4 linked regions of the Homo sapiens genome follow. The protein of the gene in region 2 purifies or fractionates together with the protein of the main gene of each other region. This does not show direct contact. Each region holds a gene or a part of one and is shown on either strand. Other genes may lie near its edges. The genes, in order: PBX3, FAM222A, MEIS1 and MAB21L1.

Region 1 (7,021 bases), on a different chromosome or scaffold from region 2:
CTGCATCAAAATTTAATCATGAAAGCAAAAAGTTTATTCATGTTTGAAACTACATATAACTACCACGAGGAAGACTTTTTCAATCCAGGGTGTAATCCAGTTAGAAAGGAACACGAAACGTTTTTAATACATTAGAATCACCGCCACAAATTATTTTCATGACTCAATCAGTTTCAGAATCGCATACAATACAAAAAGAGAGAAAGGAGAGGGGGCCCCATTACACAGGGTGAAATATACAGTACTGAATACTGAAATCTGAATGCATCACAATTAGTCGCTGCTTTTTTTTTTTTTTTTGCATGGATTAGTAATAAGATGAAGAACATTCAAAATGTTTCTCAGTATTTACAACAGTTTTACCGATCCTGTGTTGAATTAAGACCCAATGTTTCCACACTCGGTTTTTTAAAAGTTGCAAGTGCAACCCTGATTTTTCTTTTAAAAGATTACAATGTACATTACATTTTATGAAGGGAAACAAAGAGTTAATTACAAGATGCAAAAAGATAAGAAAGAGACAAACTACAGCGTGAGTATTGTTCAGAGGTAGTAAGTGAGCACTCTAAGCTACAGAACATGTTGAAATTCTATTGGTTTGTATGAGTTCGCATGAGGTAATAAAGCTGTGTTTTGATTGGTGGGATGTATAAATACTCTTTTGCTACACTATATACAACACTCCAGAGAGCAGGGCCTTTTGCAGATGCCCAGAGGACGTAGCAAACCTTGACAAGTCTGTGCAGCACCCAGTGCACACCGTAAAACCCCAGACGGATCAATCTCGTTTTCACCTCTATCAGCAGCAAGTATCTTCGTCTCTCAGAACAATCTGGATCCATAATTTTATTACCGAGCAGACTCTGGGCACTGGTGCTTTCAGAGAGAGAAACGATGCTACCAGTCTCTGATCTAATTATAACATAAGAGATCTGAACACAAACGTGACGAGGAAGATTCTTAAACACAACCATCATTAACAGGGATAGGCAAACAGCTCTTTATTCCAACTCCATTAGTGATATGAAAGAAAGACAATCCAAGTCAGTAATGGAAATATGCAAGAAGTTCAATTTAGGTGAGGTGAATTTTTGCATCTGCTTTAACGGTTGAGGTTTAGTGTATATTGTACTTTTTACCCTTAAGGCCAAGTAATTGGCAACTGTGAAACCATTAATGTAAAATATTGATAATAAATTATGATAAAATAGCTACAGGACTGTCAACAATGTTAAATCTTGGCCTAATTGGATAAAGTGCTTTATTTTTTTTAACATTGTGTGTTTTTAAGTATAAATACAAATGATTATGATTCCTTAAAAAACAGATTTACCAAGTTCTCGAATAAGACAAGGTTTTACAGTAAAGCTGTAGATGGTGGGCTACAAAAACGCTTTCCTTTTCCTCCTATTGCTCTGAATGCACTTATCAAGGCATGTAGCTCAGGGAAAAGTGTGGCCAGAGATTAGTTAGAGGTATCCGAGTGCACACTTCCTGGGCCTTCTGTAGGAGAAGTCACAGAAGATGGAGTTGTTGCGTCCTGCCAGCCTCCATTAGCCTGAAAGGAGAAACACAGTTCAACGGGTGCACGTCTACATATTAATTCTACTCCCCAATTTAAAACACCCGGATGACAACATGAGAGCAGAGATGCATTAGCAAAATGTATTTTCTAAACCCACTGTGGCAGGAGTTGGCAGCATGTGTTAAAGTGGGATTAAATGCATGTAAAACAAATCCATCCCATCAAGTAAAGTCTTGGCAATAAATCAACACGCCGAAGAAGGGCTTCAGCGAGGCCCATGCTGGCATCGAGCTCGGCCTTTGATCTGCTGGTAAAACTAAAGTGACTCAAAAAGAAATCTCTTCAGAAGGGAGCAGTGGAGAAGCTCAATGCAATGCCTCAGCGAAACCCAGGGCTCCATGAAGTCTAAACTTCACCCCGGCTTAATCATCATTTCCATAGAGAAGCAGTTGCCCACCCTTTTTCCATACACGCCTGACAGCCAGCTACTGTAACCCTTGGAAAGTGAAGGCCAGAATTTCCCTCCAAATAGGATCTTCCAGAATGAAAATGCATGAGCCGCAGAGCAGCACACACTGTTAAAATCTGTATTCCAATTATCTGTGGCTGAGGCTCCTATTTGGGATGTTGCTCCCACCTTCCACATGCTGCTGGCCCTTCCTGCCTCAGACCTGCAGCAGCAATAACCGTACTCAGAAACAAATTTGCCTTATGTCTTGGCCTATAGTGGCAATTGCTGAAATCAATGTCTGATCAGATTTCTGCTGTGGCAGACAGCTTGTCGCTACATATTTTTATGTCAGTCAGGAAGAGGGAGGTGCCAGCCTCGTGAGTTGGGGAACACTGAGTGGAAGTGATGGGGCAGGCCTTTCTGGAGAGGAGGTGAGGGTGAGCAGGCTCCCCGTGCCTGCAGCACCAACCACCCTCTGCCGCCATGCTGCCCCCAGACCCGGACCTCCTACACCAATGTCAGGGTGGGTCATAAGGTGCCTCCTGCCTCCCTCACATCTATTTGCAACTTCCTCTGCAAGTCCATCCAAAATGCCCTCTTTCAGGCCTGGGCTGCCAGGCTGCTGAGAACTCTTGTCTAGATTCCCTGCCCAGCCTAGATACAGCTCCTAGATGAGCATGTGGCAGCCATTGTTTCTTCTTCTGTGATCACAGTTCCTGGAGAACTCCCTGTCTTCTAATTCACTGCAGAGTTGGCATGCAAAGCACCTTTTCTACCTCTATGACCTAAGAACCCCACAGAGATGACCAGACCCTAAGGGAAGAGGATTTTCCAGGCTTGAGGCATATCAAATTCAGGTTAGGAAAAACAAAAGGAAACAGTATTTAAAAAAAAAAAAAAGCTATGGTGGTATTGTTTTAAAGCCTCTGTTTTGCCAGGTTGGCTAATGACATGCCCATGTGTGTTCGGTGGACTCTCAGAAATCCTCTTCTCTAAAAGGTAAGCTGTTTCCCCCCTCAGGTATGAAAATCTACTTAGGAAAAGAAAAACTCTCACACAGATACAAGTCTAAAGATATTCCATCTGAAGTAAACATCATTCCTCTTTTATCCAAATTTATAAACAACAAATGTACAATATTTTTACCCAGCATGGCAGCTGGAGGAGAGGTTGTCAGCAAGCATTCTTTTTTTTCAAAATAAATTAATCCTTACTCTGGTGGTTTGAGATTATGCACTGTATTATACAACAGCGCCTTATCAAGCCTCATCAGTGAAGATGGAATTCATGTCTGTAAAATGCTGCAGGCAATCACAGTTTCATATTTTATCATGTTGATAAGGATATCGCACATTCTCTGAAGCATTTCAAAACACTTAAATGAAAAAGGAGAAATGCAACTAAAAGGCTTTTTATATGGTTTGTTGTGGGTTATTATGAGTTATTTATAAGCCCAAAAAGAAAGATTTGACATTTCAAATGTAAAAGATTTGAGTATTTAATGGTCCTTTTTTCCCTTTACAATTGAACATCCTCAATCACTTTTTAAATCATTAATATTTACTCTCGTAGCAAGCCAAGGCCCTAAAAAGGAAGAATTTTGCCCATTTTCTTCCTGAGTCTACTACCGTGAGCTGGGCAGTTAATTTCCTTCCTAAGTCTAGAACCCCAGACTCCATCCACCACACCCCGCAGCACCACCACGATGACCTGCTCCCCTGCCCCCTTCCCCCTTTTCCAGAGCTGTGTGTTTTGCCATTTTCCATCCATGTCAGTGGAGGGAAAGGTAAAGTTGTAGTGAAGTAGTTACAAAAGTTAAAATTATTTCCTCCATAATTAAAATTGTCAAATATGTTGTGCATCCCACATTGACAATACAGCAAGATGCTTTTAATAACACAATTATTTGTTTAGCTTGGTTTGCTGGTCTGCCTGGGATTCTCCAAACTTACCACCTTCACCTGAGTTCTGTTTGGGAATTTTTCCCGCTGCCTGGTTCTAAGATAAATGACCTGTTTTCTACCGTCTCCCTGGAGCACAGCACTGATGGTAGGAAATGGCGTCTTAATGGGCTGATGCTTAAGTCCCTGCTGATGACAGGACACCAGCCATTTCTGGGCATCTATGAGGACTTCTAAGGGTATCTAGACGGCATCAAGCATTTAGGTTCTTAAAATAAAAGTGCAGCAAAGACGCTGCCTTCCCTACCTGCCAAGAAGATGAGAAGCCAGGTCAAATGGCTATTAATTTCTTTATTAGTCACTGTTTACCTGACACTGTTCTCCTACAGCTGACTCCCCAGAGTACTCACATTTAAATTATGTGGACTGTACAGTGAATTTCCTCCAAGGCCATCACTGTAGCCTCCCGTCTGATTGATAACATGACGGAGGGTATCCACCTAGAAGTGAGACAAAACAAAATTCATCATCCCAAATCTATTAAAACGTCATCACTTACAAAAGGAAATAATTTGAATTATGTGTGCCACAAGGGTTTAACATCTTCAATGAAAGACAAATTTATCAATCAAATGTGACTGGCAGAATTTCAACCATTCTTTGCATATTTAAACTCACAAATCTTTGTTTTTCATGCCAGCCAAACAATAACATCTTCATGGCAATGCAACTTTCCATCTACAGCAACCAAATGGATGTGGCTGTGGGTGAAAGCCTACTTAGAATTGTGTATATGGAATTATCTCAACTCTCTTTCTCTCACTTTCTCTATGTCTCATACACATACATCTAGATGTATAAAAACTATATGAATAGTTCTGTTCTCAAATAAGAGGACAAGAAAAGAGTAGAAATTATAGAGTTATAATTTAAGAACTCAGGTTTTTGTACTCTGACTTGAGAAATGAAACAGCAACATGTTCTTAAACCATATACACACTGGCACACTCAATTTTTCTGTTCTATTTTGTGACAAAAGTAAGATGCACCCAACCCCTCTCCATGAGCTCAAGCCAGAGCCGAATGCATTCACAAAGTTTATCAGGTTTGAATCATCACAAGTCACTGTTCACTTGACTTCTCATTAAATTAAATGGTGGGGCAGATGGGTCCTGGTTGGAAGCACCCAGCACAGGTTCTGCATGGATGTGTAGACCACTTCCATGGGGTCAGAGGAAGGAGTTTTGAGCCCAAACCCTACCCTGCTAGAAAGGCCCCACTGGGGCATTTCTCCTACCTGTGATTGCACATTGGCTCCGACTTGGGACCCTTGGTAAGAATCCCCATTCAGACTCTGCATGTTCATGAACATGTCCCCAGAATTTGGGAGGTTAAAAGAACCAGAAGAACCTGGAAAGGAAAGAGTTAAGTAGCTGAATAACAGAGAGCTACACACATAATCCTCAAAGACCTAGAGGCAGGGAGATGAGAAAAAGTACAGAAGGGAAAGGCTGTGCACAACATAAAGCATTTCCAGATCTAAGAGGATGGAGAGTAACTCCAGAGAGTTGGGTCCTGTGAGTCACTCCACATCTAGGAGAAGTCCCATCAGTGGGGAAGCCCAAACTTAAAAAACAAAAGCAAAAACAAAGAGACAAATCAAAATAAATTAAAAAGAAAAAATAAACCAAAACACCCAGCAGCTGGCCTGGACCCTTCCCCTTGTTTCCACTCATCTCCAGGATTTAGTCATTACACGAGCTTGTCAACATGGCTGTCACAGTGGACAGCCACCCAGAGAAGAGACTTTTCCAGGAGCTCTTTCTTCGCTATGCATATACCTCCCTCTCCTTTCATCTGTTTTTATGTGCCATTAAAAAGAACTGGGGGGTGAGGAGACAAGACAAAACAAACAAAAACCCCCCTACTTTCTGAACTTCTAAAGATATAGCTAAGAGACCTTCTCAGAAACGCCCCTGGAATTGCTACTGAAGTCCATCTGTTTGGACTAGCTGCACATCTTTCATTGTTATTCAAGTTCCCTGAAATTTTAAAGTATTTCTAACCCCCTCACAAACGTCACATAAAATGCAGCCAAAATGTACCGGACGAGGATCCAAGAATCTTGCATGCATGTATTAAGCACCATAACCCTCACAGCTAGCCACCTGCTGAGCATGCCGTCAGCCCCGCTCAGACAGTGCTGCTGAAAGGCAGAGAAAGGACAGCGGTGCTGGGCAGAAAGCACTGCTGCACTTCCCTCCAGCATTCCAGCTTCCTCACACACAGCAACTGCTGCATTTCCCACTTCTGCTATTTCACTCTCCACAGACCACTACTGACCCTAAAGTGGTATCTGGAAAGAAATAGCTAAAATAGTCATGAGCGATAGCACTCTGCCTAATTACTGAACTGAAAGCCACTACTAATTGTAAAACTTCCATAATCTACTAGTGAGTGGCATTCACTGTGAAGAGTGGGTTTACAGGCTCTGACCTTCCACTCATTCACCCATCTCAAGAACAAGCCTGCATTTGAACATAAATCTTCCTTTTTAAGTCCACTCTGTCCTCAGTATGGCTCTTGTTTCCTGGCCTGTGGGACAGGGCATTGTGGCATAAGGCTGCCTGGGCCAGTTGGGGAGCGAGCCCCCAGTACGCACCGGAATTTGGTGTGGTGGGCGAATTGGTCTGGTTGTTCTGCACAGCTGCTGCTACTGCGTGTGCAGCTGTCACGGCCGTCTTTGCAGCATAGAGGTTGGCTTCTTCCTGAAACTTGCCAATGTTCTTCTTGTACCTGATTCGTTTGTTGCCAAACCAATTGGATACCTACAAATTGCAGGGACATGGAGGTGAAGGGGAAGAGAGGAAGAAGTAATCAAATTCCAATAATACCTGCTGGACACCAAGGCAATACCTTGGGAGACACACAATTCCTAGCCTGCAACCTCACATCCTATGGATCATGCATAATGGTTTTGGGGGTTATTTTCTCTTTTGGCAAAACTCTCACATTCTTTTGGAATAACGCTGCTTTCTTAGAGTTGGCCACAGTAATACCAAAACGGCAGGGAGCGCTGCTCATAAAAGATATCCAACTGCTATATACCGATTAGTATATAAATAGTCAGGCCCCCAAAATCAG
Region 2 (7,891 bases):
CCTCCTGCTCATCGTCTGGCACGCTGAGTGCCAAGCCCAGGGAGATGAGGGAAGGGAACAGAAGGAATTGCCCAATTCTGACAGCCTTTCCCTCTGCCTTGGCTGTGGAAGTGTAAATACTCGGCAGAGGGCCTCCAACTGCCTGTGTTTGTGAATCTCTGGCGCGCACTCCGAGTTTGTTTCTAAACTGGGAAGCTTCGAGAGGCAGCGCAAACAGCCCTTCTGCCCACCTCTCCCGGCTCTCCCCCAATCTGCTGTTGCTCCTCTGTCCTTGGAAGCTTGTGTGTTTAACGACACCATTTCAGCTGGAAATACCATCTCCCTGCCAAGCCCCCAAAAGCAGCTCCACCGATATTTATTGACCTGTTAATCTAGCTAGAGAGCTTGGTAGAAGAGCAGGGAAAATGCTCGCTGCATAGACTGGGGCCTGGCTTCTCCTAATGACCCGAACACACACTTTCTCTGCTCTTACCCCGCCCCACGCTGCTGAGGCAATGACAGTTTTCGAACCTTTTCCTAGAAATGTGATCACAGCAGTTTCACCAGCACCCGACACTGGCAATAATTGCTGGAAGGGACCTAGACGAATCCCAGAGCCAGCAGCAGGATGCTTGCTGGGGGTTCTCTGGGCCTTTGCAGGGAAGCGTGCCAGTACTGGGGTGTGTGTTGGTTGGGGGTGCCCTGACAGAGACACAGTTTATTCAGACCTTGGCACTGATGGGCCTCACTTGCCCGCCATTCACTTAAGCAGCCTCACAATATGCTCGTTGAAATCCTCTTAAACACCAGAAGGAGCAGGGGGCAATCAGGAGTTCCAGGTTGGCCAAGGCCCCTGACCTTGGGGTAGAACAGCATGGGGAGCCCCTGGACTAGGGGTGCAGCAGGCAGCAGCTCCTCTGCACCTTCCTTGGCTGGGGGAGGGGCACCCACATTTTCCCCAGCAGAAGTAGCCTATTGGAGGGCCGGAGGCCCACATCTCTCTGGGGACCCTGGGAACTTCAGCCTGCCAGCTGGGTACATGGTGGGGTTCAGGGAGGTCTCTTCTATAGCATCTCTTTTCAAAACAGAAAGTTGCTCTGTCTGGGAGGCCTGAGCCCCGAGGCACAGGCCAGGCTACATGGGCAAAGCTCTGAACACCTGTCCTTGCGGGGAGGAGCATCAACAGGGACAGCTGGCACTGCCTCCCTCCCCCACCTTATGGGGCGCTAAGGATTTAGGTCAGAGGACTGCAATGGTAGGGGTGGGGGGAGTCCGCCTTCACCCCTCCACTACCCAAAGGCATCCAGCCCCGCCCCTTGTTACCACGACCCCGCCCCCTCCGGCCTTGGGTCAAGGCAAGTGGTGTTGCCACGGCAACCCCAGTGACATCAGAGGCTAAGGTTTGACGTCATGTCGTGCCCCCACTGGGGAACCTACCGTCCCTGCGAGTTATTTGTGGGAACGTGGTTTGAACGAGGGCTCTAAGGTCTAGCCCCATGGGGCACAATTCTCAAACGTGGCCACCTGCGTTTCTGGAACCCCAAATCCCCCTCTGAGGTGATTTCCCTTGAAGATCTCAGAGGCTGCTCGGGAGACCCTCAACGTTTTCCCATCCTGGGTGCCCCCCACCCCCCAGCCCTTCCAAGACACTGGAGTTCCCGGGGAATTTTCGGATGACACAGCCAATACCTTTGTTAGCTTTACGGGTGGGGTGACCTTTCCTCTCTGGCAACCAACCCGCCCAGGGTCCCGCGGAATCCGAATGGGCCCCCCAACCTCCACTCCCATCGGCTGGCCCATCTGAACAAGTTGTGTTTGGAGGGAGGAAAGGGGCGGACAAGGGTTATCTCTGCTTCAGGACCCCCAACAGCCTAGGACCCCTTCTGTCCAATCCTGGCTGCCCGGACGCCAGGGGGTGCCCCCAGCTCCAGCGCAGAACCCCGCCCCGCACAACTCACCGGATCAGCCAGGCCGTCGAAGGGCACCAGGTCTCAGCTACCACGACGCTCCGCTCGACGGGTCGCAGCCATGCAGGAGTGGCAGAGGCTGCCTGACGAAGCCCTCCTTGGGGGTCGATGCCTCTCTCCGGGTGGGAAGGGGCGCTGTCGGTGAGGGCTATCCTGGCGCCGGCCTGCGCCGTCCGAAGTCGGGGGGGAGGGGAGGTCTCCGTTCAGCAGGGGTCACGCCCGCCCCGGACGGGGGCCGCGCGGGCGCTCAGGCGACGCATCTTCGCCGGGGCCCGTGATCGCCACGTCCGGCGGGCGGCGCTGCGCCTCCCCTCGGGGCCCCGCTCAAGGCTGCAGCTCGGCCCGCGCCGCTCCCAGGGCGCCCTCTCCGCCCGCGCTGGGAGCCCGGCGGCCGCGGCCCCTTTCGCCAGCCCCAGCTGCAGCCTGTCTTTGTTGCTTCCTCTCGCTCGCCCGCCCGCCCGCGGCTTGCAGCCCCCGGGTTCGCCCCGAGGTGGAGGGATTGTCTCCTTCGGGGGTTGCACGCACCCGCAGCGGCCCCGGCTCCTCGCCGGACATACACCGGCCCCTGCAGGTTGCAAAGAACAGCGGCGAGAATGCACCGGCCCCTCCTCCTCCTGCTCTGAGCCCCGGGTGTGGGGGGAGGGGAAGCCGGCGAACAGCGGCGGCGGCAGCGGCGGCGGCGGCGGCAGCGGGCGACGCAAGCTCGGATGCAGCCTCGGGGGCCTCGGCGCTGAGAAACAGCCGATCCCAGTGGCGCAGGACGGACACGAGGACGGCCCGGGGGACTGTGCACCGGGTGTGCGAGCTCGCAAGCCGCAGCAGGGGCCGCGCGCGCTGGGCTCTCACGCGCCCATGGCCCCGGGCGGCGCGCGGGGGCTCCCGGGGCCGCAGCCTCGCGCCGTCTGGCGCGCGCCGGCGCCTCGCCTGGTCTCAGGCCCGGGTGCCGCGCGCCGCGCCCCACAGGCGCCGGGCCCGGCTGTCCGCCTCCCCCGGCCGGCGCGCGCAGCCTCTCCGCGGAGCAGCCGGCCAGGCAGTCCTGCCCGCTGCTCCGCTCTGGCCCGACTGACAGGCGCGAGCGCCGGCAGCAGCCCCCGCGTCTCGTCCCCCGCCCGCCCCCCGCGGCCCAGCCCAATCAGCGGCGGCTGAGAGGCGGTTACCAGGGTGACGCGGCACCGCGTCCTGCGAGGGGCGGAGCCGGGGGCCGCCACGCGCGCTTTTCGCGGCAAAATTCAAAGGCCGGCAGGGCGGCTCTCCAACCTCCTCCCCCAAGCAGGGACGAGGCGGAACTTGCCTCGCGAGGACTGCAACTCCCGGCATGCTGCGCGCCGGCGCCGGGTGGAGGGGCCCCGACTGGGGGCGCAGGGCGTGCTGGTTTTTGTAGTCCCACTAGGGGTGGCAAAACCAGTGTCATTTACTGATCACATATTTGGGACAAGGCACTGTATAAGTGCATTATCGGCATTATTTCATTTAATCTTGGCAAAAACCAACCTCATGAGGAATTTGTTAAAAATAACAACTATAGCTAACACTTATGTAGCAAAGTATTTTATCTAATCCTCACAACACCGTGTGAGTGGGTATTACTATCACCCCCATTTTACAGATGAGAAAACTGATACGGTAGGTACTATTATTATACTTCCAACTTACAGAGGAAACTGAGGTAAGGAGATGTGAAGTGACATGGTCCTGGATGTTTTTGTCCTAAGGCTTATTTTTGGCAGCGATGTGTTTTTGGCATCACAGTTGTGATCTGTGGAGCGCTAACTATATAACCCAGCACAGCGCTGAGCAATTTGCAAGCTACACCTTCTAGACGTACCCCACGCCCACAGGAGACAGGCACTAGCCTACTCCCCCACTTAATAGATAGGGAAACTGAGGCATAGTTTCACATCAACCTGGGGTTCAAATATGAATCTATCAAACTATACTGTGCTTTCCCTTTTACTTTTAAAGAAGCTTCCTGGGTTCTCACAGCCCATGGGCGGCCCGTCTAGCAGTCTCATTTACAGATGGGGAAATTGAGTCCTGGGTGGGGCAGTTCCCTCAGTTGCTGTGTGTCCATCACACAGCACTGTAGGAAGCCAGCTTTCCGGGATAATAACAAAGATCCCCACAGAAATGCAGAGCAGCAGTCAGACCCCCCACCCCTCAGGCTATGCCCGTGTGATACCTGGAGTCCCACCGAAACTGGGTGGGATTGCAGCCCTGCCCTTGCTGGTTGTTGGTCTTGGCCATTTACCTTCACGGGTCTGCGCCTCAGTTTCTTGTCTGTGAAATGGGGGGCATCATAATTCCTACCTTACAGCGTAGATTTGAGGGCAAAATGAATTCTTGCATGTAAAGGACTCAAAACACACATTAAGTGCTCAATAAATGCCCTCTGTACTCACCCGGGCTGGAGGGCTTTGGAGACCCTGGGGAGCGTATCCAGCGGACGGGCTGATTATAGACGGGCCCTAGCCTACTTCCAGGAGCCAACCCACCCCGCCGGGAGAGGCGCCCGCGGCGGACCTCCAGGGCCGGCCCAAGTGGGTCACCCGCCGCCTTATCTAGGACAGGAGCTGGCCCTGTTTCAGGCCTCTAAGCGGCTGCTCGGCGCGCTGTTCCCAGCAGCTCCGCTCTATTTCTCCGCGGCCGCCCCCATCTCCTCCCCTTCCCTCCCCAGGCTGAAGGTGGGGGTGGGGATTTACCTGGAAATGTGTTATGCCTCCAGCTGCTTCCCGCTCGGGCCAGCAGCCAGGGCTGCGGGGACGTCAGGGAGGGCGGCCGGGGCGACTGGATGGGTGGACCCAGCGTGTGGACAGGTGGGGAGACCAGACTTCAGCTGAGGACAGGGCGAGGGACAGTAACAAGCAAACCCTGGGAAATGAGAGAGATCGCGAAGAGGAGAAGAAGGCAGCAGTTCGCACCACAGCCTGTCAAAAGTTTGGGATTTTTTTCATTGTAGGTCACCATGACTTCACACCTACTGTGTGTCAGGCATGGGCTCACTGCTATTTATCTCACATAACTCCTTTTACCCTCGCAGAAACCCTATAAGGTATATACGATCACTATGCACATCCTACAGCAGAGGAAGGCCACATGACTTACCCAAGGTCACACAAATGACAGAACCAAAGTCCAGAGCCCTGACGTTGATTTATTGCACCTTGTGGCAGCCACTGTCTGACCGTGTGCAACCTTGAGGGGAGTTTCTTCTCTTCTCTGGACCTCAGTTTCCCCTGCCATGAAATGGAGGGTAGGACCCAAACCCCAGCCCTACCAATCAGACTCTCCTTGGTGGGACAGCAGTTTCCAAAGCTCCTATGTGGTTCCTGATACAGCCAGGGCTGACAACCCCAGGTCGAGAAGATCTCAAAAGACCCCTCCATCTCTGAAGTTCTATGAGTCCACGATGTGCTCATGGTGGAATTTCCGACAGCAGCAGGCTCCAAGGCAGCTGTCCAGCAGGAGAGGTCAGAGCCTTCCAGATGCCTGTCGCTCCCCTCCAGGCAGGTGAATGCCCCGTAAGATGCTCTGCCCCACTCCCCACACTCCCAGTGCCCCCCTACCCCATATGCCCATCTCCCTGAGATCAGACCCTCGTGCCTTTGCTCTTGGTCGACTCCAATAACTGCATTATGTGATTGGAGACAGTGTCAAGATGGATTTGCCACGGTCCATAAAACCACCAGGCAGGCCAGCCCCGGAACACTGGCTCTGGCCAGGGGTCCGACAGGCCCTGAGGGGGCAGGGGGCAGAGGGCATCTCATCTCTCACTGTTCTTGTTTGCCTCCCACACACCAACCTTGCTGAAATACCTACAAATCCTTGCACGTGCCTCTCTCACCTCCAGGTCATTGCTTATGCTGTTCCTTCTACCTAGAATGCCCTCCCTCCAGGTAGCTAACTCTTGCTCCTCCTTCAGAGTTCAGCCAAAGTGCTGCCTCCTCCAGGAAGCCTTCCCTGACTACCCTGCTCCAGGCTGGAGCACTTCCCCCTTCACAGATGTGTCCAGTGTGTGTTATAATGGCCCACTTCTTTGTCAGGCTTCCCACTGGCCTGAGGGCTTTTCCAGGGCAAAGGCTGCATTCAGTTCATTTTATTCCCTAGCACAGGCCTGACATAGAGTCAGCACTCAATGAAGGTCTGTTGACTTAATCTCTGAATCACTGAATGAATGTGGCCCAAGTTTTTGTTTTGTTTTGTTTTCACGTAGAGGAGGAGAATTAAGAGAAGGGAGTAGAGTCAGGCTGACTGGGCTACTAGCCATATGACTCAGCCGCTCTGTGCCTCAGTTTCCCCCATCTTTGAAATGGGATTAATTGCCATTTCAATTAATCAAGGCATCACTCAAGGGGCCTGGAGGCTGGAACTTTTGTTCCCACCCTCCCACGTATGTAAGGCTAGTCTTGCTCTTCTCTGTTTTTTTGTTTTTTTGTTTTTTAGAGACAAAGTCTCACTCTGTCACCAGGCTGGAGTGCAGTGGCACCATCATAGTTCACTGCAACCTTGAACTCCTGGGCTCAAGTGATCCTCCCACTTTAGCTTCCTGAGTAGCTAGGACTACAAGGTGCATGCCCCCATGCCCAACTAATTTTTAAATTTGTTGAAGAGACGGGCTTTTGCTATTTTGCCCAGGATGGTCTCAAACTCCTGGGCTCAAGTGATCCTCCCACCTCGGCCTCCAAAAGTACTCGGATTACAGACGTGAGCCACCTGGTCCATCTTTGCCTTGCCCTTCTCTGGTCTCACGCACTGAAGCCTGAGCATTCCCCCTTTAAGTCTGCTAATTCCCTCATTCATTCAACATTTTCTAAGTACCTGCCCTGTGCTTGACACTGGGAATTCAGCAGTGACTCAGACCAAGACATAGGCCTCTTGGAACTCAGGTTTCATGGGGCACAGAGAAGGCAACTAACAGGTGTCATCCAGGGTACCAGTAGAGGGGACAGTCCGAAGCAGGCACCTGACTCAGCGGAGGGCCAGTGATGGTAAAAAGGCAAGTCAGCTACCCTGGGAAAAATGGGTAGGAGGTAGCCAAGGGCAGAGGTGAGGGAAGAGCGCCCCCGGAAGAGGGAACAACCAATGCAAAGGCCTAGTGTTCCAAGTGAGGGAGATGTGAACGCCCCAAAAGCAGAGGTGGGTGAGAGGCTGAGCTGGGGCTGGGGAGAGGGGAGCAGGCAGAGACGGGGCATTTATGCAGGCAGAGGGGGCAGGCCTGCTCCAGCCTCCCACCCCACCCCCAGTTGCCTCACCTGCCCTCATTGCTGTGATCTAGGCCAGAGCCCGGAGGGAGCCCAGCCCCCATTGGTGCACGCCACGTAGGTTTTTCAGAGATAATTTAATCAGAGCTATTAATAAGCAGAAAAGAAAGAGCTCTTTATGCTCCTCCTGGAGAAACGGGGAAAGAAGAAACACATGTAACCTTGTTATTCACCCAGCCCCGCCCCCCAGTACCTGAGTCTCTCTCTGGGGCAGGCCTAGTGGGGCAAGGAGGAGGGGGTGAGCTATGTGTAGGGCTGAAGAAGTCCAAGTGGCCTCAGGAACCGAACCCTGCCCATCTCCCTGACTATATCCCACCCTCACTCCCTTCTGGCCACTTTAGTCTCCTCTTGGTTACTTGAAGGTGCCAAACTATTTCCCACCTCAAGGCCTTGACCCAAGCCGTTCCTTCTGCCTGGAACATTCTTCCTTTTGCTCTCTGGTTTGTTCTCATACTTCCAGTCTCAGCTTAAATGTCACCTCCTCGGGGAAGCCCTCCCTGACTACCCGATCTGAAGTTATTTTCCCCAGAACACCTCCCTTTTGTTTTGCTTTCCCTCTCGTCAGTGCTTACTGCTGTTGGCAGCTTTCTGAGCACTTGCAGGATGACATTTATTTTCTTCTTATTTTTTTTTTTTTTTTTTGAGACAGACTCGTTGCACAGGCTGGAGTGCAGTGGTGTGATCTTG
Region 3 (7,644 bases), on a different chromosome or scaffold from region 2:
TATCACCTCCAGGCTCTTATCTCCAGCATTCCTCTATTATCTGTACTAGATTTCGAATCTATTTTCTTTAAACTATCTTTCCCTCCCTCCTCTTATTTCTGTTTTTTTGAAATGTCAATGCTAGTGAGGGGGAGAGATGCAGAGGATGAATGTTTTTGAAATACAAACGCCAAGCCTCCACACCACAGGACAACCTAAAAACCAATCACAGCATTTTAAGGGACATCTTAAAGTTTGGTGGCAAATGATAAACCCTTATCATTTTGTGAACACAGCTGCCAAACTCGATTGATTAACAGGCTTTTGTTTATTCTGGGCTGGCAAATACACACACGTTTTACCTTAAGAGGTGCCTCTTTAGTTTCTAAGGGTTTTGGAGCTGACTCATCAGTGTGACCTTTTGGGACAAAAGCCTAATTTAGGATATAGATCTTTCCAGAAGCACAATTCCTTATAGAACATAAAGTCAGGGGAGTTCTCCGAGACGACTTTACCAGCAGCTCAGAGGAGCACTGAGGGCTTGAAATGCCTCCATACAGGAGGGTGTAAACAATAGAGACCAAGGGCCCAGTCTGCCTCCTTTTGTCACCGTTCTCTATCTCTGGAAAGATGCTCTGAGATAAGAAGGATGAGAAGAGAACGGAAGGCCTGAATCGCAAGAGCTAGGGCCAAGTGCCAGAAGTTTTCACCAGGCCAAGTTTTTGCAAAATAAAAGTGCTATTGCCTTAAAAAAGCAAGTATCTGAAATAAGTTAGGAATAGGGGCTGTCAAAAAATGGGCATAAATATTGACAGTAGTTTACTAAGATACCTAGACCTGTCCCTTCATTTGTTTCCTTTTAATAGATGATTAATTGCTGCCCTGCTAAAGGAGTTTTTTTTTTTTTTATGGCTACTATATTGCAACTCTAGACATCCTCTGTGCAATTTCTCTCAGCAAGCCCCAACTGTAATAACTGTTTGCTAATTGTAAAATCCTTATCCAGAATGAGGTTTGGGCAAACAATTTGTACTACTGTAATTACATTGTAAAAGTGTTTAGTCCCTTGATTGTTCAGAATTAATTGTATAAAGGCCTAGAAGTTATATTAGGTTCACAGTTTAAAATGGAAAGACTGTGGGGGGGGGGAGGGGCACTTTTCAAAACTACTGAGTTGATTTTAAGTCCGCAAACTCAAACTATCTCATTCTTTAAGGAAAATTTGTGTGTAGGTAATTTAAAGTACATTTTTAAGGTAATCTGGCACATCATGGTTAAAGCATGCAGTCGTCTAGTCTTCCTCCTGCTTTGAAGATTTTGGTTATGTTTGCAAAGGGTGACTTACCTGAACCTTCTTTTCTCATCTGTGCTAGAAAACAAAAGAAAAAGATTACCGGAAAGCAACAATACAAAATAAATCCTGTTGTCAAATATATATATATATATATATACTGACCTTTTCCAAATTTGAAAACGTGGCCGCAGAGTTGTGGTAAATCCAAGCCCCGTTACCTCTTTGCCGAAGAACCCCTGAGGCTGTTAAAGACCACAGTCCTCTAAGCGTATTTCGCAATAAATTTCTCTCAGTTAAATTATACTTACACAATTTCCCTCGCAGTTCATTTAAGGATCATAAACGTAGGTGTGCCCTGTCGGTGTTTGGTTTGACCCCCACCTCCCACCCACGCATCTCCCTCCTACCCCCGAGTCGCGCAGATGCCTGGCGGGCCTGATGCGGGGACGATGATCACACCCCCGCGAGCAGCCATCGGAAGGCGCTCAGGTATACCCCGAAGTCGGCTGGGGTTCCGGGAAGGGGTCGCAGACTGCCGGCCCAGCTTAGTCCTTTCCCTAATCGGAAAAGGAGCGTGCTGCCTGGCCCAGCCAGCGCAGCCTCCCAAGGATTAAACAGAAATCGCCTTCCTGAGACGGGGAGGTTCCATCTTGGCCTGAAATTCTGCTTCCAAGTTCATGTTGTGGGGCCGGGGAGCGACGGTGAGGCGTGGGGTGGGGGGGTGGGGGGATGGGGGGAGGCCGGGAAGTGTAGGCAGAGGCATAAAGGCGCTGGTAATGCACCTGGCTGCCCACCCACTCCGTCCCCAGCTTTTACTCGCGGGCCTGTCTTAACCTCCCAAGTGATGTTTCAGGGCGTTTGTACCAGAAAACCTACACATGTATGTGATGGAAAAAAACTAAAAGATCCTGAAACTTAAGCGTCAGAAAAAAGACAGGGAGAAACAGAGAGAAAAAGGAGAGAGGAAGCAAATGATAAGGGATCCTGGAGATGGTTTAAACACACACACACACACACACACACACACACACACACACACACACACACACACACGAGGGAGAGCTCTTTCAAGGCAAAGCGCTTCTGAAGGTTTTGGGAGAACGTGTGTCAGCCCTTCAGGCACACAGGGTGCCAGTACGGAGTTGGGGGCGGGGAAGGGTGCAGTGCAGGCGGCTGGGAAGGCTCATCTGCTCGGCTTTATGGAAACGCTCCACTGTTGGGGGCAACCAACCCCGCGTTGACTCCTGCGAAGTGCTAAAGGAAGCGATAGATGTCGCCTAAGGAGACTACGGACGCTCGGTGGAACCTCATTCCAGACCTATGTTCTCATGCTCGCCCTGTGTCTCCTGCTCCTCGGAAGCCCACTCTATAGAATCTTCAGTCCTACCTCGCAGACGGACGCAAATTATCTTTTACTTTGCGCTTAAGAGTTGGCTTCAATACATTTTAGAGCTCCTAACCTTTCCCAAACAATCTTCGGATGAAGGGATACCCCCAATCTTGCTCAAAACTCTTTCCCTACCTACACCCCCTTGAGGGTGAGGGTTCAGTCCGCAGCTGGCGAGTGGGACGTGGGTGGGGGCGATGGAGGCGCGGGCGGGCTGCTTGGAGGGAGTCAGCCTTTTGGCCACCTTCAGGGCGGGAATAGGGACTGGCAGTTCGCATTCCCCGCAGATCGAAGCTCCCTGCTGATCGATTATTTGATAATTGATTTTCCCCGCAGCCAATGCGCGGCGGCCTGGGCGGGGGCGCCTCCTGATTGGCCGAGCACTCCTCCACGGCTGCCTACCGAGATTTGGGTGAGCTCATTTTCCAGTCGACCGCAGGGGGAGTTTTCTGCGAGGTTTCAGCTGGAGGGAGGGGGAAAAATCCTCTCGGAGCCGAGCGAGCTGCGAGCCCTGCTTGTGGATGTGAGGTTTCCAGCCACTGGTAGAGCTGCTGCGGCTGAGCCATCTCGGCAGATCAGAGCCCAGCGGACAGAAATATAAATACGAAAATAACGCCACTAAATATAATCACAAGGGAGAAGCTTAGAGCGGGAGAATAAAGAGAAGGGGTGAGGGGGAATTAAAGCCCAGGCAATAGGTGTTAAAGTTAAAAACAAAACAAAACAAAAAACAGTGGTTGGTTGGAGCCTCCGAGTTGTAGGTACAGGCAGCTTTTGTCTGAAATCTCAGCTTCCGAAGCGGATTTCTTTTTCTCTGGCACTGGGAGGTTTCGCCGAGCCGGGTTGGGGACGGGAAAGAGGAGCGCGGGGAAGGATGTCTGGGGTGGTGAGGGCAGGGCTTCGCTGGAGAAAGAGCTAGTGGGGCGCGAGGTTCTTACAGGCCCGGGAGAGGTCGAGGCTGGAGCCCCTCGGCGCCTCTAAGACAAAGGCAGCGGTGGCTGCAGCCGGAGCCTAGCACTCCGGCAGCGTCGCGCCGCGCCGCGCCGCGCCCTGGGCGCACGGCCGCCTCACCCCGAGCGGGTCGGAGAAAGAGCCTCCCTCCCAGCGGCTCCCCGGCCCCGGCTCCGCCCGCGAGGTCTGGGCTGCTGCGAGCCCGCGCCGGGTTTCGCTTTCCGACGATCATAAATAGCTTGGTGTTTGTAAACAGGCGCTGGGGGCACATTCCCCGCGCTCAGCTCATTGTTCCCTCCCTTCCTCTCTACTTCGCGCAGGACGCCTGGGCTGGGGCTGGGAGCCGCCGGGGCTAGGAGGTGGGGGAGTCCAGACCCGAAGTGACAAAATGCTAGCATTTTCTTTCCCCCGGCCGGGCGTCCACCTCTAACAGCAAAGAAACCTCTAAGCTGGGTCTGCAGAAAGCCCGAGCCACCTCAACCCCATGTTCTCAGGACTCCTTAGCAGAGGCTTTCCCAACCTGGCTTCTCCCTCCTTTTCCTCCACGATCCCGCTTTGACTTTTCTCCTTGCAGTGTTTAGTTCTGAGAATTCAGTACTTTGCGCATCACCCCCTGCCCCGAAAAACACTGGCAGACCCCAATAATTTCGAGGAAAGTCATGAAGTCTATGCGCGGAGCCCTGTGCAAAATAACTCCCGCTGCTGCCTGCCCGGCGTTGATTCCCAATTTATTTCAAGAGAGTCGGCTTTGGGGAGAGAGTCTGCAGGGGGAGGGAGAGAAAAGAATACTGAAAATAAAGCTGGCGGCCGCGGGCTACTGCCTGCGTTTGTGTGCGTGTGCCCTGGGTGTGTGGTGTTTGTGCCTGGGCGTGCGATTTAATGGAGCGCCTCTCTGCCTCTCCAGTGCGGCCAGAGCTCGCTTCGCGCACCCACCCCTGCCGAGGAGCCTACTTGCTGCAGCCCAATGCATTGTGTAAGACGCGACCTGTTATGGCCACCACTACTTCCGGGTTCTAGCATTCTGGTCGGAATCCACCTCTCCGCCTGTGCAACACACACTTTACACACGCACGGGGACTGCAAGCGGGCAGCATCGATCGTGGCTCCTTTAAGACAAACTCAGACAGACATTTTTTTTAACCCTCCTTCTCTAATCTCCTTCCAGTGCAGCACTTGCAAAGAGGGAGAGAGAGGGAGAGAAAGAAAGAGAGAGAGAGAAGAGAGAAACTGATTAGGAATTAGGACTGATTCAAGGGAAGCGAGCGCTAGGGCTTTGTGCATTTGAATATTAACATTTGAGGTGTTCTGACCAGAAGAAGACAGAGCGGATGATCATTCATTCACCACGTTGACAACCTCGCCTGTGATTGACAGCTGGAGTGGCAGAAAGCCATGAGATTTGGTAGTTGGGTCTGAGGGGCGCTCTTTTTTTTCCTTTTCTTTCTTTCTTTCTTTTTTTTTTTTTAAACTGATTTTTGGGGGAGAGAAGATCTGCTTTTTTTTGCCCCCGCTGCTGTCTTGGAAACGGAGCGCTTTTATGCTCAGTGACTCGGGCGCTTTGCTTCAGGTCCCGTAGACCGAAGATCTGGGACCAGTAGCTCACGTTGCTGGAGACGTTAAGGGATTTTTCGTCGTGCTTTTTTTTTTTTTTTTTTTTTTTTCCGGGGGAGTTTGAATATTTGTTTCTTTTCACACTGGCCTTAAAGAGGATATATTAGAAGTTGAAGTAGGAAGGGAGCCAGAGAGGCCGATGGCGCAAAGGGTACGTATTAAAAAACAATTGTGGAACTCAAATGTGAGATTAAATTGAAACGTGGCCGAAAGACACTGCTAAAAAGTTTCCTTTTTTTCTCTCTCTCTTTTAAAAAATGAGGCTCCTAAAGCCGTGGCCTAAGCGAGAGGATTTATTCAATGCATTTGTAGACTTATGTATGTTACTTGGAGTTGTTAATTAAAGGAATCTATTTATCTATAGATTCCTAACCAGCAGCTATATAAATAAAAATGCAAGCTCAAACAATCATCTGGGTTTTTTTTTAAAAAAGCTAGATACCTAAAGCTGTAATTTGAACATTCAGAGATCAGAAGTTTAAAGTTATGTTTAAACTAAAATATGCAGCTGGAAACTTCTGATATGTTATTGATTATGCTCATCTTTAATATCACTAGAAGTATTCAGCTTTTTAAAGGAAATAACTTTGTCATAGTATAGCCAATTTTTTGGTCAGAAAACATTCATCTTTTTATAGTAATTTCAATTTGTATAGACTTGTATACAAGGCAATATTTTGCAAGTTTCTCTTAGATAAGCCCTCTACTAATTGAATACTAAGCACACAGTTACTCACTTTAAAAATGCAATACTAATTTCCCCATATTCCTTTTTCAATGGAAATGCAGTGAGAGTAAAGTGAGACAATGACAACCCAACTGAGGTAGTTTCTTAAAAGAAAGGGGGTCTACAAAAAGCCTTCCTTGCATAATTTGTGTCCTGGCCCTCAAAGCCCTGTTTGCAAAAGAAAGTTACTAGGCTGACACAGTTTTCTTTACTCCTTTGGTTCAGGCAAATGTCAGCGTTCTTCCAAACTCTTTTCACACCTCTGGCTTTAAGGAGATGAAAGTGGCAATTCCTCCTTTCTTTGAAAATCATTTCACTCTCAGCGCCTCCAAATCTTGGGAAAATAACTGCCTGGAATGAACCAATTAGAAAAACCTAAATAGCTAAATTTCACACACACAAAATAATGACAATCAATATGAAAGTAGTTTTTTTTTTTTTTTTCTGGAAGAGGAAGATGGAAAGTTGTGCATTTGCTTTTGAATTTGCTTTAAACCTGGTGAGTAACATTTGCCTCCTTGACTTCTAGTCTGGAAACAAAGTTCATAAGAGTAAATAAGAAAATAGAATATTAGCTGCTTCAACTATAGATTTTCTTTAACTTTGGGGGTGGGGAATTGCCCAATTCTAAATTCAGCTCTGATGTTCAGGAAAAGCTACCCTCCTTTGAGTTTCACTTATAAGGGGTCAGTTAGTTTTGTATAATTTAGCAGAGTTTGTCTTGGAAAGCAAAAGAAATGCAGTGTCTTGTAGGACTGCCTAACCTCACGCTGGCAGGGAAATAAAATGAGAAGCCTGTCTAAATTCACGTGCTTTGCGTAGCTGTTCCCATCGTAACTTTTTTTTTTTTTTTTAATTCCCCCTGATGTGAAGGGGCTGTGAAACTAGGCGGGTTTGCTGCAGTGTCCTGGCACGTTTTATTATTGTGATTTTGAATTTCTTCCTCCAGAGACATGCCCGTTTCACCTTCTACCCTCGGGAGAATGCTTCTCTTTCTCTCTTTCTTTCTTCTTTCCTTCTTGCCAAAGGAGCCTGAATTTCTAAACTAGTTGATAGGGACACAAGTTAGGGCAAGATCATTCATCCCAGACGAGTCTCGCTGAGAATTCTGTATTTTTTACTTAAAGCTTTAATTTTAAAATAAGAAAAACTCAGCTTTATAGATGCAAGGCCACCGAATTCCGGGTGGAAGGACCCAGCTGTATTGACCTTATATAAGCTCGGTGCCTTGCCGTTCTCCCATTTGCCCGCCTGGCCTCCTGAACCTTCTTTCTCTCCTGTTTGTCATGCAGTACGACGATCTACCCCATTACGGGGGCATGGATGGAGTAGGCATCCCCTCCACGATGTATGGGGACCCGCATGCAGCCAGGTCCATGCAGCCGGTCCACCACCTGAACCACGGGCCTCCTCTGCACTCGCATCAGTACCCGCACACAGCTCATACCAACGCCATGGCCCCCAGCATGGGCTCCTCTGTCAATGACGCTTTAAAGAGAGATAAAGATGCCATTTATGGGTAGGTACAATGGGCAGCAGGTTAAGTAGTTGAGACTCAACGCTTCCCTCTTTCTCTGTGCCCTTGGTAAGAGGAAAGTCAGAGTTCTCTGGATTGGAGGTACATCTTTGGTGACTTTTCATTCACATTTCATGGATAATTTGGGGAGGTGGCCTGCCATCCCTGAAGCCCTACAT
Region 4 (7,020 bases), on a different chromosome or scaffold from region 2:
TTATTAGCTTGCCCTATGAAGTCAAAAAGAAATGTTGAATTTCTAATGAATTTATTCTGCTAATGGAACCCTTATTACATAAAATAAGGTTTGACATAAAATATATTGGTCAGAAAGGATCGTTTTATTAGTTTTCATACATAATTTTCGAAGTTTCATTATGACTTTGTTAAGTTCATTTCCTCTGAATTAGTCAGATTTTTAACTCAGTCATCTCTACTGTCATGATAGACTTTTTTTCTTATATTATCAAAAATGCTACAAGAAGAGCAAGCTTTCAAAGGTAGATTTAAATTGTTTCTGTTGTAGAAAGGAATTGTCTTACAAGTAAGTTAGAGACTGAGAGTAGATTGTTATCTTATGGACCTATACAGAAAGAGCTTTTCTCCAATGTTTTATTTTTAAGGATTTCATTAGCATATTTCTCAAAATATTTAAGATATTCAAGTGGGTTTGATTTTCAAAATGCATCATTACATCTTGTGATAGGAAACAATTTAAAGTGAGACACAACAACTTTTATTTTACTTCATTTATTACCATCTAATTAAATAAAAACCAGCAACAAATTAAAATCTAAATCACAAAAGTAATTATCCAGTGTATTTCAAGTGCATTTTTCAAATATATAATTCAGATATTCAAGCGTTATTATATAAGCTGAATTCAAATTTCTTTGAATATATTTAAATAACATTTCAAGTATATTTATGGAATGTTAGAAATAGAACAAGCAATATTTGAAACAAAATGTAAACTTTTTAAAGTTCAGACACTTTCAAAGACAGATAAAAGTACCAGGAAGAAATCTACCTTTAAATGATATCTTTGTTAGTGGAAAATGTCTGGAAGTATCCAGAATGGCAATTTAAGTTCTGTTCACCAAATCACAAAACACCAACATCCACACTTTCAAAGACAATGTGAGATCACAATATTTGTTACAAATCAAAATATACATTACAGTTTCTTTCAGATGGCATATCCAAATCGTGTTTACTCACAGACAGATGCACCTAAATCACCAGGATTGCTATAATCCTTTGATAGTTAGGCAGAGTGTTCGTCTCGGTCTGGCGTTACAGCTGGGCTGTTTACGGAGTGTTACGGTGTACTTTTCAAGGGAGATAGGAAATCGTGTGGAAAGAAGTCTTCTAATACTAGTGGCTTTGGGTTTTTCTCCATCCGCTTCCCCTACTTTTTCTCCCCTTGTGGGGGTGGGTGAGATGATGTTTAAATATTGTATTATTATTCCTTTTTAAAGGAAGAGATTGTTTGCACTGCGGAGTGGAATATTAGGAATTGAACAGAAGTTTACACTTAATAAGGACTTTGAGAAGGGTAATAATTTCGGCTCTTGATTAAATCATCCTCTAAAGTTTTTCCAAACTTTTCGGGTTGGTCAGGATCTCTCTTGCCAGTCGCCACGTTTGTTTGGCAGCGTTTTCCAGAGCTGAGTGAGGTTTGCCTTGAAACAGATCTAAGTTCGGTAGAAAGTAGTGGGGACACCGCCGGCACTGCAGGCAGGAGATAAGTTGCAGCAAAATCCCGTTCAGCCGATCACCCAGGCAAGACTCGTCCCAGTCCGACTCTCGGGGATGCTTTTCACACTCGTAGGAAACCAGAGTCTTCATATGGTAATTGTTCAAGGGCTGGCCCGGCAGTTCAAGGTGACGATCCCTTAAGGTTTTGAGGATGGAGAGGCACTTCTTTCTGCAGCCCCCCATCTGCAGTCTGTTCTCTGCCTCCGCGAACTGCAGCACCCAGGCGTCGCTCTCCGCCGAGCTCTGCTTGCCGGCCAAGGAGTGGCACTCCTTGGACAAGAGATTGAAACCTTCCGCCTTGACCTCCGCCACCCGGTTGGGTCCCGGCCAGGGGATGTGGGGAAGTGGCCAGTGGGCAGCACTCCTCGGCCAGATCCCGGTGCATTTAAAGGCCGGCGTGATCTGCACCACGTACCTATCTCGGATTCTCAGTTTCACTTCGCTGGTGTCTGCCACCATCTTTACCACATCCCGGTAGCTACATTTGTCTACCGCTTGAGCCACCAGCGTCTGAAACCTGGACCGGATTTTGCGCGCCGAGAGGTAGCCGGAGGCGGTAATGAATTCCACCCAGAGGGACATGCTCCTCTTGCGCCCGTCGCTCAACTTCAGCACCGCGCAGCCGGGCAGTGAGCCATCGTCCACGAAGTTGAACACCCCCATTTGGTTGAGATAAAGCACCACTTCAAATTCGGTGGGGGAGATGACCTCGAGGCCCTCGTAGCGATTGTCCATCTCGTTGAGAGAGCTGATGAACCGCGGCTCCTGCACTTCCACTTCCTTCAGTACGTCGGAAACTACTTTGCAGACTTCCCGGATAGTTTTGGCAATGGCAGCTTTCCTGGCTTGGCATTTTTCGTTGTAGTATTTATTCAGATGGTAGACCAGCTTGGCCTGGGCCGCAATCATGTTGGGGCAGAGATCCGGATTGTACACCGGAGTCTCGCAGTAAGCTGTGGGATCCAATGCGGCTGCTAGAGCTGGAGCCAACTTCGGTGGAGAAACGGGCCGCAACACTCAGAAATGGATCAAAAATGCCTTTCGGAAGTGCTGCAGCGTTGGTTTCCCTGCTGCTGCTGCTGCTGCTGCTGCTGCTGCTGCTGCTGCTGCTGCTGCTGCTGCTGCTTTTCCCTTCCTTTTATCTTTGAGCCCAGCCGTTCTTAAAGTGAAAGACTGTCCTCCCCCCTCTGCTTGTCTCTCTTCCTCTTTTAAAGAATCCTTGTGTGAGAGAACCGCATGGAGAGATCACCTTCTCAGGAATAAAAAACAAAAGTTGCGCTGAGACCCAGCAAAGCTCTTCCAGTAGTCAAAATAAGCACCCCTTTCCGTATTTATTTGCGCTTTCCCGTAATCATTGTGTGTGCAGCACTGTTAATCAAATGGAGGAAAAGTGTGCTGAGTGTGTGTCCGGGGTGAGTGTGCGTGTGTATATGTCAGAAGAAGCTGCTGTTGGTTTGTCTAAGAGCCCAGATGCACTCGTGTGGAAATTATAAAGGCAGGGCCAGGCAGGCGGGCGGCCAATCGCCACTGGGCTCGTCACGACAGCCTCCTTCAGCTCCAACCCGGCTAATTAATCCCCACTCATGGATATAGGCACACAAACTAAAGGTAGGAGGCTGCTGCCGGCGGAAAACCACTCAGGCCACCTAGACAGTTTGGAAATCAAGAGGAATCTCTCAGCTTTGGTATTACTTGAAGCATATTGACGTTTTGAAAAGACTTGGCAAAGCGGCTCTCTTCTGTGCCGAAAACCTGCTTGTCTTTTACCGCTGAAATGCAAATACAGGTGTATTAATGGGCATCCATCAATTAGTGATCTTGACGGGGTTTTCTAAAACAAAATCACTAACTTGCATTTAGAGTAAGATAATTAACGTCTGTTAATCCTTGGGGTCTTCTTAAATGCAGGTTGAAAGTTTGTTCTTTCATGCAGACTACTGGCATATGGAAGTTGGCTTTAGATGGAGGAGTACCTGTGTAATTTTCTCATTCTGGATGTTCCTATATGTTAAAATGATTTTTTGAAACGTTATGGAGGTAGTATGCTCTTTTTTTACTTATGTTTTTTTCTTTTCTCCATTTGTTGAATCTGAAAATTATTGCTGAGTGTGTGAGATGTTCTACCCCTGTTTAAGTTAGGATATTTAAAAAATATTTCGTACATCCCTCTGCCCCAGCAGATGCAGTCTTTGCACTTTGGTGGACTTGCCCAGCATTACAAGCAGGACACAACGCTATATATGCACTTATAGAAACATTTGAAAAATAAATTGTCTGTGGGATGGACAGAGTACTTTAGCGTTATTTCATAGTGACCTGTATTTTAGTACATAAAATTCAGGTGAGATCATAGAGATCAAGCTTCCTCACAGATAACTATCCCGAAAAATTGAAGGTTTGGGGTATCTGGCTTGTTTACAGATGTATAATTAAGGATATATCTCCTGTCTTAAGTGTCCTTAAGTGGTGACCTGGCAGTAGACTTCTAATTTTATACTATTTCGTGTGATTTAATTAAGGGAAAATGGTTAACATTTGCAAAGAAAATTAACTTGCAGTTATCTGGGGGGTTTTTTGGATTTAAACATCATTTTGAAAACAAAAATGAAATAAATCATTTCATTTCTGAATTTTGGAACCTGGAAACAGGAGGAGGAATTTTTTTTTCTAGTTGGTGGTCCAGTTGTGTCCTCAAAGTACAGGAAACTAAAGAAATACTACTTAGTGGTTACGTTGTGGTTTTTAAAACTAGGTGGATTTTTTTAATTGTCTACCTTTAATTTAGATGCCACGTCTTTCCAATTAAGAATATTTCCCGTCAAATCCTATAACTCCCGGTAACATGTTTGTAGACACTTTCAGAGTCACTTTTAACAAGATATTCTTCAGGGCTCCCACTTGCTACTTAAGCTTTTGATTTTTGTTTGTGTGTTTTGTTTTGCACAGGCACAGCATCACAAAACCACCTATTATTTAATTTCTCCTTATCCAACAGTGATAGATTCCAATTTAGCTGAAAATAGTATACATTGGGGTGCGTGGCACCCAGCTACTCTATTTCCCAAGAACCTTCCATCCCCTTAAGAGCAGGGTCTGGGAACACCCAAAAAACCCCTCCCCACTTTGCCGTCATCGCGGGTGAATGCACCACTACCTTTTGGCAGTTGGAGGGGAGACCCATCAGAGCCGGAGAACCTGCAGCCACGACGGCGAGGATGTGCAGTGGTCTCTGGGGAAACGCCGCCTTCTGCCCTCACCCGGCGCGTGTGGCCCTGTGCCGTCCGCTCGCCGCCTCTCTCTCGCTGCTCCGCATTCCCGTGCCCTCTTACTTTCCTCTCTGGGCTCAAGATCGCTACGCTTTATTTCTGCGTGAGCTTATTTGAAAACCTTACTTGGTGTCCCGGCTTACTCTCCACGTCTGCTCCAGACCACGGTCTGCCCACGCACCCCTCAGCCTGCACCGCCCACGTCCGGCCCAGGTGTGGTCGCAGCCAAGCCCCAGCCGCGGGCCCCTGCGCCCTGCGCTCTCTCCCTTGGGTTCAGGCCAGAGATGCTTGCCCCAAGACCTCGCCCCTTGCCTTCTTGGGCCACCTGCAGAACACCCTTGGTTGTCAAGGACGTGAGACAGCCGAGGACGGGGAGGCCCCAGGGCTGTTCGGGGGACCTTAAGTGGGTCCAACGGGAAGGACGCGGGCCTGCGAGGGATGCCGGTCGGGCCTGGCTGGAGCCAGGCGCGCAGGTGGCGCATCTTCGGGGCTCACTGTGCAGCTTAATTGGGTTAAAGCGAAGCTAAACACCGAAGCACTTTGTGCAAACTAATTGGTGCAACCAGCGCCTTTTCACTAACGATTTGCACTTTGAGAAAGAAAAATGGATGGTGAGAAAAGGTATACTAGGAAACTCATTAGATCTAGAGTGTTCAGGAAAGTGAAGTCATTTAGTTTAAAGGACGCCAGGACTGTGTTTTCTAAGCTGCTTCCTTAAGCACCCCTCACACAAGGAGCTGAAGGTGATTTACATAACATAGGATTCACCGGTCCGCGATTATCACTGTGGGTGAACTGGGCGCCCTGGAATGAATAATACTCTAGTGCAAGTACTGCTTGTTGCTGCAACACAGTGATTTTCTATTACACTGAACACGTGAAATGAATTGCCTTCTGTAGCTGAATCCTTTCAGTGATCGTAGACGCCCCTCATTGTTGAAGCGAGAATTAAGCTATTCGGAGAAGCGTGTTTTCCATCCCCGAAATTTTTTTATGGAAATGACCTATAGAGAGGGATTGCAAATAACAGTACATTTTTGTGCAGTTCAGCCGATTTTAATCTAGGCTTGGGGGATATATTTATTTTATGGGAGTAATATATTTAACTATTTTTCAGTGAATTTTAAAAAAATATCATTTGACCTATTAAACTAGTTATGTCAAATGATTATGTAGTACATAGAGATGGCTTAATATACATTTATGTATTAATGTGAAAAGTTTTTTTAAAAAACTCCAGTTATACCAGTCTTGCAATATTTTTTGTTGTAAATATACTCAGTGCTACTAGAATAAAATTGTGTGTGTGTCATGCTTTAGGATGTAAATACTTAATTGTTTTCAGTGGTAGGCATGCAGACATCTTTGACATGAGCTAATAATAGAATGATAATTGAGGAAAACTGGCCTAATTGAAGGAAAAAAATCTCAAGAATCTCATGATTTAATGATAGTTTGAAATGCTTATATTGAATGGTATTTAGAATTTTAATGCCTAACTGACTTTTACATTGCATTTACTTAGTTTATGAGGCAGGCTCGATTTAAAATGTACCAGTTAGGAAAAAAAAAAAAAAAAGCAATAAGGACATAGCACACCATTATCATAAATGTTAGTAGTATTAGTGAATATAAAATAATTAAATATTGTGATCCTTAACACTTCGAAGCGTTCGAAATAACAGTGGCAAAACAACTTTGCCTCAAGTAGTATTTCCTAAATAACTTGTCTCCACTTCTGCAGACCTGCTTACTTATATGGGATATACAAAGTAATTCATAAATAGTGTCATTATTAAGCTTAAAGAAAAACCCTGTTATGTTGAGAAATACAAGAATGCAATATTTCTTTGTTTTCGAAAAAAACCTGATTTAAATTTGAATTGCATGTTCACAAATCTCAGTAATTGTAACCTTTCATCTGGAAAAAAGGTATCTGTTAAAGGATATGCACATACATGTTAAGTGCTTATATAGATATTGTTTGGTGTTTTTTCATTATCTGCTAGCTGCTAGTCTATTCACAAGTATTAATGAATTTAAAGTTTTATTTTTTTAATATGTGCTTATTACGCTGGGGAGATAAAAAGAATATGAAGTTGAGTTTATTACATTATTTATCCCTACTGCTGGAGTGGCTTTGAAGGCTCATTGTAGCCATCTGATTTCTTTCCCCCTTCTTTTTTTTTAAATGCACCCAGGCTATTTCA

Evidence for each region.
Region 1: the proteins of FAM222A (region 2) and PBX3 purify together in Homo sapiens (affinity purification with mass spectrometry; 2 studies listed by BioGRID and IntAct, with this or other methods). This does not show direct contact.
Region 3: the proteins of FAM222A (region 2) and MEIS1 purify together in Homo sapiens (affinity purification with mass spectrometry; 2 studies listed by BioGRID and IntAct, with this or other methods). This does not show direct contact.
Region 4: the proteins of FAM222A (region 2) and MAB21L1 purify together in Homo sapiens (affinity purification with mass spectrometry; 2 studies listed by BioGRID and IntAct, with this or other methods). This does not show direct contact.

The regions. Positions count from the first base shown.
Region 1 is NC_000009.12:125,960,368-125,967,388, reverse strand, and holds the end of PBX3 (pre-B-cell leukemia transcription factor 3), read right to left. Parts: intron 6,706-7,021; coding exon 6,540-6,705; intron 5,288-6,539; coding exon 5,175-5,287; intron 4,378-5,174; coding exon 4,288-4,377; exon of another isoform or gene 4,214-4,287; intron 1,559-4,213; coding exon 1,466-1,558; 3' UTR 12-1,465; downstream 1-11. UniProt on the Homo sapiens protein: Transcriptional activator that binds the sequence 5'-ATCAATCAA-3'.
Region 2 is NC_000012.12:109,708,944-109,716,834, reverse strand, and holds the start of FAM222A (protein FAM222A), read right to left. Parts: upstream 3,011-7,891; 5' UTR 1,938-3,010; intron 1-1,937.
Region 3 is NC_000002.12:66,430,496-66,438,139, forward strand, and holds the start of MEIS1 (homeobox protein Meis1), read left to right. Parts: upstream 1-4,629; 5' UTR 4,630-5,361; coding exon 5,362-5,373; intron 5,374-7,241; coding exon 7,242-7,468; intron 7,469-7,644. UniProt on the Homo sapiens protein: Acts as a transcriptional regulator of PAX6. Acts as a transcriptional activator of PF4 in complex with PBX1 or PBX2. Required for hematopoiesis, megakaryocyte lineage development and vascular patterning.
Region 4 is NC_000013.11:35,473,686-35,480,705, forward strand, and holds MAB21L1 (putative nucleotidyltransferase MAB21L1), read right to left. Parts: upstream 3,005-7,020; 5' UTR 2,454-3,004; coding exon 1,374-2,453; 3' UTR 104-1,373; downstream 1-103. UniProt on the Homo sapiens protein: Putative nucleotidyltransferase required for several aspects of embryonic development including normal development of the eye. It is unclear whether it displays nucleotidyltransferase activity in vivo. Binds single-stranded RNA (ssRNA).